Regions from separate parts of the Homo sapiens genome. Here region 2 is linked to region 1. The links come from fine-mapping of genetic effects on gene expression. A gene starts in region 1. The other region holds a variant in brackets. All regions are shown on one strand. Distances are between the middles of the regions.

Region 1 (5,370 bases):
AGCAAAGATGATCTAGAAAAAAGCAGATCTCAGGCTACAGAGGGCCTTGCTACAACCACTAATCTTTCTTGACTGTACTTCTGCTGCCCTCCAGTGGTCACTCCAGTCCATGCAGGACTTAGCCTGAAAGCTCCACAGGACCACCTTCACTCAACCCATCCCAATCCTCACCATGGGCACTGGTGCCAGGCCTGCCTCCCGCAACCTGGCCTTCACTTGCTTGGCCACATCACGGATGTAAGGCAGTGCAAACTTGTTGAAGAGCTGTGGGCCAAGATGCCCTGCATGGGACTCAAACAGCTGCAATGCCTAGTTAGGGTATGGTGAAGAAAAATATGTAACACACAAAGAGGAAGTTTCCCCCACATACAAAATCCACCTCAATTTTCCCCAAATGACTTCAATCCCTGATACTGCCTGACCCTAAAAACCCAGTAATTAAAAAAAAAAAAATTTACTTTCCTCAGATCCCAGCACTAACTTTGGTGTCTGAATACTTAGAGCATTAAGCCCCACTGTCAGTGTCAGGATGGGCTTGGCTGCTCCGCTAGATCACTGGAGGCCAAGGTTCTTTCATCCCTGGCATTAAGACCCCTGCCCTCTCAGGTTTAGGACACTCTTGCTTCTGGTCCTTACAGACCAAATCCCAGCCTATTTCTCTCTCTCTCAGGACTCACCTGGGCACCAGCCACCACTTGTCCTACCAGATATGGGACCAGAGCATCAGTGAGGATGCGAAGCAGCTGGTGACTAGCCTGAGGTCTCTGATAGAGCCAGCGCTTGGCCTGAGCCATGGTGCTTGAGCCACCACCCTCAACCATGTATGTCATCAGGGTCCACTAGAGAAGGATAGAAAGATGGTGTCACAGAAGCCAGACTGACCCTTCCTTTTGTCTACCCCAGACCTTCCAGAGTGATCTCCCCGCGCCCCGAGTCCCTGCCCTGTCCCACATTACTGGGGCACCAGCAAAGCCAATCAGCGGCACACGTCCAGCCAGTCGTTGTCGGGTAAGGGTGATGGCTTGGAACACATAGCCTAGCTCAGAGGCTACCACTTCTGGATCCCGTAGGCGTTCTAGGTCCTGCTCTTCTCTTAATGGCTCTGGGAAGCTGGGTCCTTTGCCAGGTACCATGGTCACCTCCATGCCCAGTGCCTGGAGGGGGAGAAAACATCTGGGTTCCCAAAATGGAATCCAGGAGGAAAGGTTCTGTTCAGCTCATTCCAGGAGGAAGGAAAAGGAGAATAAAACTCTGCCAAACTCCATTTCTTTCAACCTTAGTTTTTCCCTCGATCCAGTTAGGATAAGTGCTTATTGTAAACCTTGACTGGACTGATAGAAGGATTTTCAAGGCGTCCTTGGATTATATTCTAGGATCAGGTTTGAGTGGGTACCTGGGGTACAACAAGGATGTCGGAGAAAATGATGGCAGCATCCAGAGGGAAGCGACGCAGTGGCTGTAGGAAACAGGAGACAGGTTGCTAGGTGGCAGACTGAAGGCATAAATCTTTCCCTCTTTTGTGGACCCCTCACCTGCAGAGTCAGTTCACAGCAGGCCTCAGGAGAGCGACACGTGCTGAAAAAGTCCTGGGCAGCCCGGGTTTCCCTAAACTCTGCATACAGAGGGAAGACAGGGCTCAGCCTTGAGGCCCTCCAGAGCCCTCCCCTGCCCCTCGAAAACTTTTCTCCCTCCGGAGTTTTATCTAGATTTCCAGACCCTGACTCTTACCTGGTAAGTAACGGCCTGCCTGGCGCATGCACCAAACGGGAGTGTAGTCTGTTTCCTCTCCCCAGGCTGCTCGCAGGAATGTGTCATTCTTCAGCTCCGGAAAACCCTGAGGTCTGGCGATCAGGTGGGGGTGGGGGTAGGTGTCAGTATGCTACGCTGGAGGCTGGGGAAAGCGCGGGTTCATAAGGCCGATTCAGTCCAGGACCGCTATCTACCTCCTCCAGGCCAGCTCCCAAACCCTGGCTTTCCGCCCGTTCCGCCTCCTCTCTGCCTATCAGGTGGTGCACAAACTCCAGAAGGGCCCGCCCTGGGGCCTCTTCCCTCCACTTAGTCTCTACTCTTCCAAGCTCGAAGCAACCAGAGGGACTGGGGGGAGGGAATGAAGGCCCACTAAGGATAGTTTGGGGGTCTTCGAACTAGTGAGCCTCAGAAACGGGAATGTCACTGGGCTGGTTCAGGGGCTGAGAAATACCCAGGCTGGGGGATAAAGAGGGATCAGAGTTGATGGTCCCAGAATAGAGATCCTGGTTGGAAATCCTGAGGCATCCCTTGAATTAAGGCCCTGGGATGAACATCTCAAAAATCCATGGTTTTAGGATTCAGGATCCCAGCTAACGGAGTTCAGGTTGGGAGGTCTCCAGGGTGGGGAAAGGGGAGTAGAGGGATAGAGTCCTGAGTTGGAAGACTCAAATTAGAAGCCCGGCTAGCCACACCGCGTGCTCTGGAGAACTCACCCCAACCCATTCGCTTCCATGGTCAGCTGTCTGTAACTGCGAGCTCAATCCACAATTTAACCTGAATCTGAGCCTGCCCCCCAGTCCAGGCTCCGCCCCTTTCTGTAGGGAACCAAGAGCGTCGCCATGTTGAAGATCACATGATCGGACTCCAGCGACAGCTCCAGGGCTGCCCTGGCTGCTGCCCGTAGGACCCCTACCTTTTTTCACCGTAAAGTTTGCTGTAGCGACGCAACAACAAAGGCCCAAAAGAAAACTCCGCTGTAAATGTATCTTACGGTGACATGAGGAATTTGTTCTCATCTGACAGTCTGGGTATCCGGAGGCTTGGCGCAAGTCCCACTCATGATACCAACAGTCTTATCCAGCCAGGTCCATACTATAGCCTGGACCTATAGTAGGTGCAGAGGTTAGCTCTGCTCAAGACAGCCCCAGCCTTTAAGGAGCTACAAGACTGGGGAAACAGAAATCAGCAATCACATTAAAATGAATAATGATCTCCAGTGTCCTTGGGATTAGGAGTGACAAACAGAATCAACCCTAATGACTCAAGACTCCTGTCAGTGGCAGGGGAAGGGGCCATTGTCTCAAACACTTTAATCACACCACCCATAGGATAGGGAGTCCAGCAGATTCGCTGGGAGTGGGAGGAAAAACAGCAGGCCGAAGAACCAGAAAAATGACTGTTGGCAATGACCCAGGCTAGCTAGAATGGTGACTTGAATGAGGGTAGTAGCAGTAGAGATAAAATGGTAGTCACAAGGAAATGGAGAGAGGGAGATTGATCAGGTAGCAATCACCAATCTTGGGTTTGGTCGGCTGGGTTAGGGTGGCACAGAGATAAGTAATATGGTTGAGTGTGGGAGTACACAGTCCAATACAGTGAGAGCTGGGGTGCGCTTAGTCCAGAACATACGGCAAAGGCTGGCCAAAGGCGGGGAAGGGCGTGGTGGGAAGCTCTGTCCGCGGTCGCGCCAGCTGTTCCCCGGGCAGGGTCGCCTCTAGGTGCTCACCTCCGCCACTTCGCCATGGCGGGTCCTGGCCCGGGCGCGGTGCTGGAGTCCCCCCGGCAGCTGCTGGGCCGCGTGCGCTTCTTGGCAGAGGCAGCGCGGAGCCTCCGCGCCGGGCGGCCGCTGCCAGCAGCGCTGGCTTTCGTGCCGCGAGAGGTGCTCTACAAGCTTTACAAGGACCCAGCGGGACCGTCGCGCGTGCTTCTGCCGGTGTGGGAGGCAGAGGGCCTGGGGCTGCGTGTGGGCGCCGCAGGCCCAGCCCCCGGTACCGGCTCCGGGCCCCTCCGCGCCGCCCGCGACAGCATTGAGCTCCGGCGCGGCGCCTGCGTGCGCACCACGGGCGAGGAGCTGTGCAATGGCCACGGGCTCTGGGTGAAGCTGACAAAGGTGCGCTCTTCCCTGCCCAGGACCCGGTAAAAGACCCCTGGGGCCAGAGAAACCTCTGGCTGTTTGCCTTTTCTCCCCTGTATTGAGTTGGCATTGCGTTCGGCGCCCTTTGCCCTGGGCTGGGCACGACAGGCGGCTGGGCAGTTCCCTGACGGCTGTCCCCATCCTACGCGTCCCGGCAGGAGCAGCTGGCAGAGCACCTGGGCGACTGCGGGCTGCAGGAAGGCTGGCTGCTGGTGTGCCGCCCGGCGGAGGGCGGAGCCCGCCTGGTACCCATCGACACTCCCAACCACCTCCAGCGGCAGCAGCAGCTCTTTGGCGTGGATTATCGGCCGGTGCTCAGGTACTGCACTTGAAGGAGCGGGGCTGGCTGTCAGAAGGCCGGGCCAGGAGGGCTTGGGAACACTTCAGCCACAGCCTGGGGTGGGTGGGATACTGGAGCGGAGGCAGGGTTAAGAGCAGAAAGGGGCGGGACGTGAAGGGGGCTCGGAGGGAGACTGGGAGATAGAGCCCTGAAGAAGGCTACACGGCATGGAGGTAGTGTCTTGCTGACCGCTGATGTCTCCCCATCCCACTCCCTACTCTGTGCCCACAGGTGGGAACAGGTGGTGGACCTGACATACTCACATCGCCTGGGATCGAGACCTCAGCCGGCAGAGGCATACGCAGAAGCTGTACAAAGGCTACTGTGAGTGAGCTGGAATGGGGTGGGGAGGAAGGAGCTCTGCGTCTGGGCCCAGTCTAATTAGGGGCTTGGGGTTGCTTAGCTATGTACCCCCGACATGGACCTACGAGTGCGACGAGGACCTGATCCACTTCTTGTATGACCACCTGGGCAAGGAGGATGAGAACCTGGGTAGCGTGAAGCAGTATGTGGAGAGCATAGACGTTTCCTCCTACACGGTGGGTGCTGGGGCTCCTCCCACCCCAGGCAAGATATAGTCACACCCCTCAAGGCTAGATCCAGAAAGAACCCCCACCTGCAGGCCAGGACTAAAACAGGGTCCCCACAGGCCACACTCAGTTCAGCTCCCCATCTTGGACGTCTATAGGACCCCTTACATACCCAGCGGCCCCCTATCCCATACCAGTTGCCTGTTAGCCCAACTTCACTATGCTTTCTCTCTGGTGCTCCTGGCCCAGAGCACAAGCCCAGTGCAGGGAGGGAGGGTAACTGCTGACTTCACGTCTCTGCCCCTCCCCAGGAGGAGTTCAACGTGTCCTGCCTGACAGACAGCAATGCCGATACCTACTGGGAGAGCGATGGGTCCCAGTGCCAACACTGGGTACGGCTTACTATGAAGAAGGGCACCATTGTCAAGTAAGTAGGCTCTGGGCAGGACAGGGTGGGTGGGCTATGTCCCTGTGGGTTCACAAAGACTCATATTCACACTCTGACCCTTCAGGAAGCTGCTACTCACAGTGGATACCACAGATGACAACTTTATGCCAAAGCGGGTGGTGGTCTATGGGGGTGAAGGGGACAACCTGAAGAAGCTGAGTGACGTGAG
Region 2 (5,370 bases), 280 kb before region 1:
CTAGAGAGTTCTCTGGGGGCCAGGCACTGTGGCTCACACCTGTAATACCAACATTCTGGGAGACCAATGCAGGAGGATTGCTTGAAGCCAGGAATTCAAGACCAACCTGGGCAACATAGTGAGAACCTGTAGTTCCAGCTACTTGGGGGCTGAGGCAAGACCATCACTTGAGGCCAGGATTTCAAGGCTGCAGTGAGCTATGATAGTGCCACTGCACTGCAGCCTGGGTGACAGAGCAAGACCCTGTCTCTAAAAAAATAAAAACAAAATAAGAAGAGAGTTCTTTGGGGGTCTCTTTTGTAAGGGCACCAAACACCTAATCACCTGACCTAATCGCCTCCCAAAGGCCCCATCTCCTAATACATACCTTGGGGGTTAGGATTTCAACATAAGAATGTTGGAGGACACAAACATTTATTCCATAATAAGGACGTTTGCTGAAGGCCTTCTGGGAAAGGTTTCCTCACCCCTAGGTGAGAGTGATGTAAACAGAAGTATCTCTTTTTCCCGGGAATGTTGTTAAGTCTGAAGGTGTCCTGGAACTGCTGCAGCTGTTTTGCTAACACCTGAGGATGGAGCCAACAGTAAAGGTGGCAGAGCGGAGAGATGGAAGGAGTCTTTGCCTTTAAGGGCACTCGATCTGCCAACCCTGGAGGCCACACTAACGCTGAATTTCCTCACACAAGGGAAATTAAACATTGTCACTGTTGGAGCCATTGCCAGTGGGTTTCTGTTATAGCAGAAAGCATGTTTATTGTTACAAACAGAGCAGCATTCAGACTTTTGTGGGCCCCTTCCTATGTAAACTTTTTATTTATTTATTTTTTTGAGACAGAGTCTCGCCCTGTCATACAGGCTGGAGTGCAGTGGCGCGATCTCAGCTTACCACAACCTCCGCCTCCCGCGTTCAAGCGATTCTCCTGCCTCAGCGTCCTGAGTAGCTGGGACTATAGGCACACGCTACCATGCCTGGCTAATTTTTGTATTTTTAGTAGAGATGGGGTTTCACTATGTTGGCCAGGTTGGTCTTGAACTCCTGACCTCGTGATCCACCCACCTTGGCCTCTCAAAGTGCTGGGATTACAGGCCTGAGCCACTGTGCCCGGCCTGTAAACATTTTTTTAAAGTTATATTTTATGACTGCATTAGCACAAAGATAAATTATATTAATATTATTTATTAAAACATCTTCTTTGCCAGGCGCAGTCAAGCCTGTGGTCCCAGCTACTTGGGAGGCTGATGCAGGAGGGTCACTCAAGCCCAGGAGTTTGAGGCTGCAGTGAGCTATCATCAAGCCACTGCACCCCAGCCTGGACAACAGAGCAACTCTGTCTCTTAAACAGGCTGGGTGCAGTGGCTCACGCCTGTAATCCCAGCACTTTGGGAGGCTGAGGCAGGCAGATCACTTGAGGTCAGGAGTTCGAGACCAGTCTGGGGAACATGGTGAAACCCCGTCTCTACTAAAAATACAAAAATTAGCTGGGTGTGGTGGTGTGCACCTGTAATTCCAGCTACTTGGGAGGCTCAGGCAGGAGAATCACTTGAATCCAGGAGGTGGAGGTTGCAGTGAGCCATGATCATGCCATTGCACTCCAGCCTGGGTGACAGAGCGAGACTCTATCTCAAAAACAAACAAACAAACAAACCAAAAAACTTTTGACTTAAAAGTTTGTTTTTTCTTCTGATTTAAAGGGAATTGTATTAGGGTGCTCTTGCACTGCTAGAAATTCCTCCAGCCTGGGCAACATGGAGAAACCTCATCTCTACCAAAAATTACAGAAAAATAAAAAATTAGCCAGTTGTGGTGGTGTGTGCCTGTAGTCTCAGCTGCTGGGGAGGCTGAGATGGGAAGATTTCTTGAACCCAGGAGGCGGAGGTTGCAGTGAGCTGAGATTGTTCCACTGCACTCCAGCCTGAGTGACAGAGCAAAATCCTGTCTCAAAAAAAAAAAAAAAAAAA[AG/G]AAAGAAAGAAAGAAAAAGAAATACCTGAGACTGGGTGATTTGTAAGAAAGGAGTTTTGGCTGGGCATGGTGGCTCATGCCTGTAATCCTAGTACTTTGGGAGGCTGAGGCAAGAGGATCACTTGAGCCCAGGAGTTTGAGACCAGCCTGGGCAACATGGCAAGATCCCATCTCAATTATTTAAAAAAATGAAAAAGAAAAACAAAGAAAAGAGGTTGAATAGGCTCATGGTTCTGCAGGCTGTACAGGAAGCATAGTGGTATCTACTTCTGGGGAGGCCTCGGGAAGCTTCCAATCATGGTGGAAGGTGAAGGGAGAGCAGGCCCATCACATGGTGAAAGCAGGAGCAAGAAGGCGGGGTGGGGCGGGGGAGGTGCCACACACTTTTAAATGACCAGATCTTGCAAGAACTCACTCACTATTGTGAAGACAGCACCAAGAGGATGGTGCCAAACCATTCATGAGAAGTTCACCCCCATGATCCAATCACCTGCCACCAGGTCCCACCTCTAACACTGGGTATTACAATTTGACATGAGATTTGGGTGGGGACAAACATCCAAACCATATCAGGAATTAAAGCATTTTTGTCAGCCCTAAAAGTCCTGGGGCACTCATGTCTCTACTGTGCTTAGCGGATGGGCTGGTCCTGGTTACAGCTCCCAAATATGTACTCAGGCCCACACCTCTGTTTTGACCTTCGAGCTCCCATGTCCAGCTGTCTTTTGGATAGTTCCCCTTTGGTGTCTTACTCAAATCCAACATGTCTCAAGCTGAACACAGTTTCCCCCAAATCTTTTCTTTGCCCAGCATCCCCTATCTGAGTGAAACATGTACCACCCAGCTAGTTGCACCAGCCAGAAACCTGGACCTCAACCTCTCCCTCACCCTGTAGCCGTGTCCAGTCACCAAGTGCTGCCAATTTTCTCTCTTACATGGCTCTTGAAAGCATCCACTTCTTTCCATTTTCACTTCTGTCTCTACTGCTGTTGTCCTAATCCGCGTTACCAGCGTCTCTTGCTTGGATTACCACCGTCTCTTGCTGGGATTACCACCATGGACACTAATGGTCTCCCTGCCTTTCACTTGCCCTGCAATCATTTATCTACACTGTCCCAGAAGAATCTTTTCCAACTGCTTAAAACCCACTGATGACTTTACTTCATTATTTCTCTGTTTAAATCCAGCTGATGGCTTCCTGTTGCTCTTATAACAGAGATCCAAAACTTCAAGGAGGTCTCCAAGGCCTTGTCTAGCCTGGCCTCTGCCCCTCTTGCTCTGCTCTCTTACCCAGCTTCAGCTACATGATCTTCTCTCAAACACACAGGCTCCCTCCTGGCACAGGACCTTTGCACATGATACTCATCTTAGTCCGTTTGAGCTGCTATAAGAAAATACCATAGACTGGGTAGCTTATAGAACAAAAGAGCTTTATTTCTTACAGTTCTAGAGGCTGGGAACTCCAATATCAGGGTGCTGGCAAATTTGGTGTCTGGTGAGGGCCCTCTTCCTGTTCACAGATGGCGCCTTCTTCCTGTGTCCTCACATGCTGGGAGGGCACACAAGCTCCCTTGAGCTTCTTTAATATGAGCACTAATCCCATTCATGAGGAACCCTCATGATCTAATCTCTCCCAAAGCCTCCACCCCCCAATACCTTTCACCTTGGCAGTTAAAATTTTAACATATGAAACTTAAGGGACACAAACATTCAGACCATAGCAATATTCTTCTATTTTCTACTCCTTCAGCTCAAAGCTTCTCAAGGAAGCTTTCTCTAGTCTAGGTCAAGTATCATTAACTATGTGGCATTAGGCAAGTTTCTTTTATTTATTTATGTATTTAATGAGACAGGGGCCTTCCTCTGTCGCTTAGGCTGGAGCGCAATGATGCGATTGTGACTCACTTCAGCCTTGAACTCCTGGGCTTAAGTGATGCTCCTGCCTTGGCCTCCCAAGGTGTTGGGAATACAGGTGTGAGCCGCTGTGCCTGGCATAGGGAAGTTTCTTTACTGTGTGGTGCCTTCGTTTTCTCATCTGTAAAATGAAGATATAATAATGCCTAACTCACAGGTTTGTTGTGAGGATTAAATAGAATGTCACATGGGAACTGCTGTGAGGGTAGCTGGTGCAGTGCCTGCTTGCCTAGTTGTCCTGGCCCCTGGCTAGCTCTCTAGAGGGGGAAAGTGGTGGAGAGATCCCTCCCAATTAACACTAGCTGGAGATGTTGGGCTGATACAGGTTCTAAAATGTGAGGATTTCAGGGAAGAGCATCTCTACAAGGGCACAGAAGATTTCTGAGTTACCTGAGTGAAAGCAAAGAGCTAATTGTGCCAGAGAGTCATTGACAATGCCTGGGGTTGGGCTAGGGTACTCGGAGAAAGAGGTCAAGAGAACTCACAAAGGTCAGGGAGAGAGAGGAGGTGAGTGGGAGTACACCACATTTCTGTCAAATCTCTGAGTAGCCCAGAGCCCTGGAAGGAAGGGCCCTGGTTGCCACAGGGTCTCTATGTCAAGAAAACCTGGGCTGTCATCCCTAGCCTGTCATTTATGAGCTGGAGGAGGGGGAAAGTCATGTCACTTCTCTGTGTTTCAGTTTTCTTACCTATAAAATTGAGCTAATGATTGACTTTGTGGGGTCGGTGGGAGGATTAAATGGGGCTATAATAGTTTGCTGGGGCTGCCTAATGGCTTGAGCTGAGACGTTGGTCTTCTCTGGCCCTTAGACTGGGACTTACACCATCAGTGCTTCTGGTTCTCAGGCCTTTGGACTAAAGCTGAAATCTATATCACTGGCTTTCCTGGGTCTCCAGCCTGCAGATAACAGATCATGGGACTTTGCAGCCTCCATAACTGTATGAGCCATTTCCTTATAATAAATCTCATTGTACTCTCTCTCTCTCTCTCTGTATATATCTGTGTATATATATATATATATATATATATATATACACACACACACACACACACACACACATACATACACACACTATGCCAGGCCATGTTTTGTTTCTTCTGATCTACAGACGATTAATTGCCTATTTAATATTGATTTTTTCCCTTCTTAGTTAGGGAAAATTTGCTGGCCACATGTCTAGAGGAAAAATTTTACATTCTAACCTGTCTTTTAGATAGGGTGGCCAATGAGCTATAAGCAGTAAGGCTTCCAGAAAAGCCCTTTAACTTTAACTTTAACTTTCATCTTCCTGCCCAGAACTATGATATGATGGCTGGAGTGCCAGTAGCCACATTTTAACCTTGAAGATAGAAGCTGCTTAAAGAATGGTGAAGCACAAAAATAGAATCCTAGGTGACTTTCTAGAGCATACCAGTCTTAGACTGCCTGCCTCTGGAATTCTCTTATGTACAAGAATAAATTTGTACAAGCCATCATAGTTAGATCTCTGTTACT

Which allele goes with the higher level. Positions count from the first base shown, and alleles are read on the strand shown. Sizes are in standard deviations (SD) of each study's normalised expression.
For the expression in monocytes after LPS of the gene that starts at base 2,494 in region 1, AG is the high allele of the variant in region 2 and G is the other (moderate effect, 0.45 SD a copy in Fairfax 2014).

What was found. PIP is the estimated chance that this variant, and not a neighbour inherited with it, causes the effect.
Region 2: its variant is the best candidate, but not a certain one, in a credible set for the expression of UROD in monocytes after LPS (Fairfax 2014, PIP 0.66).

Annotation. Positions count from the first base shown.
Region 1 is chr1:45,009,378-45,014,747 of GRCh38, reverse strand. It overlaps UROD (uroporphyrinogen decarboxylase), which reads right to left and starts at 2,494. Exons shown (of 10, transcript NM_000374.5): 1 at 2,463-2,494; 2 at 1,729-1,841; 3 at 1,533-1,612; 4 at 1,394-1,456; 5 at 957-1,154; 6 at 678-839; 7 at 172-309; 8 at 1-12. The coding sequence starts at 2,482. HECTD3 (HECT domain E3 ubiquitin protein ligase 3) reads left to right here and starts at 3,424. Exons shown (of 21, transcript NM_024602.6): 1 at 3,424-3,859; 2 at 4,042-4,202; 3 at 4,455-4,547; 4 at 4,627-4,762; 5 at 5,065-5,180; 6 at 5,266-5,370. The coding sequence starts at 3,491. RefSeq lists enhancers at 451-987, 2,398-2,527, 2,568-2,617 and silencers at 3,378-3,507, 3,588-3,757.
Region 2 is chr1:45,291,259-45,296,628 of GRCh38, reverse strand. It overlaps LOC105378691 (a long non-coding RNA gene), which reads left to right. Exons shown (of 3, transcript XR_947287.4): 3 at 1-817. Among named protein-coding and RNA genes, the nearest start is that of LINC01144, 10 kb to the left of the region's middle. The variant AG/G (reference allele first, on the strand shown) is at 1,960.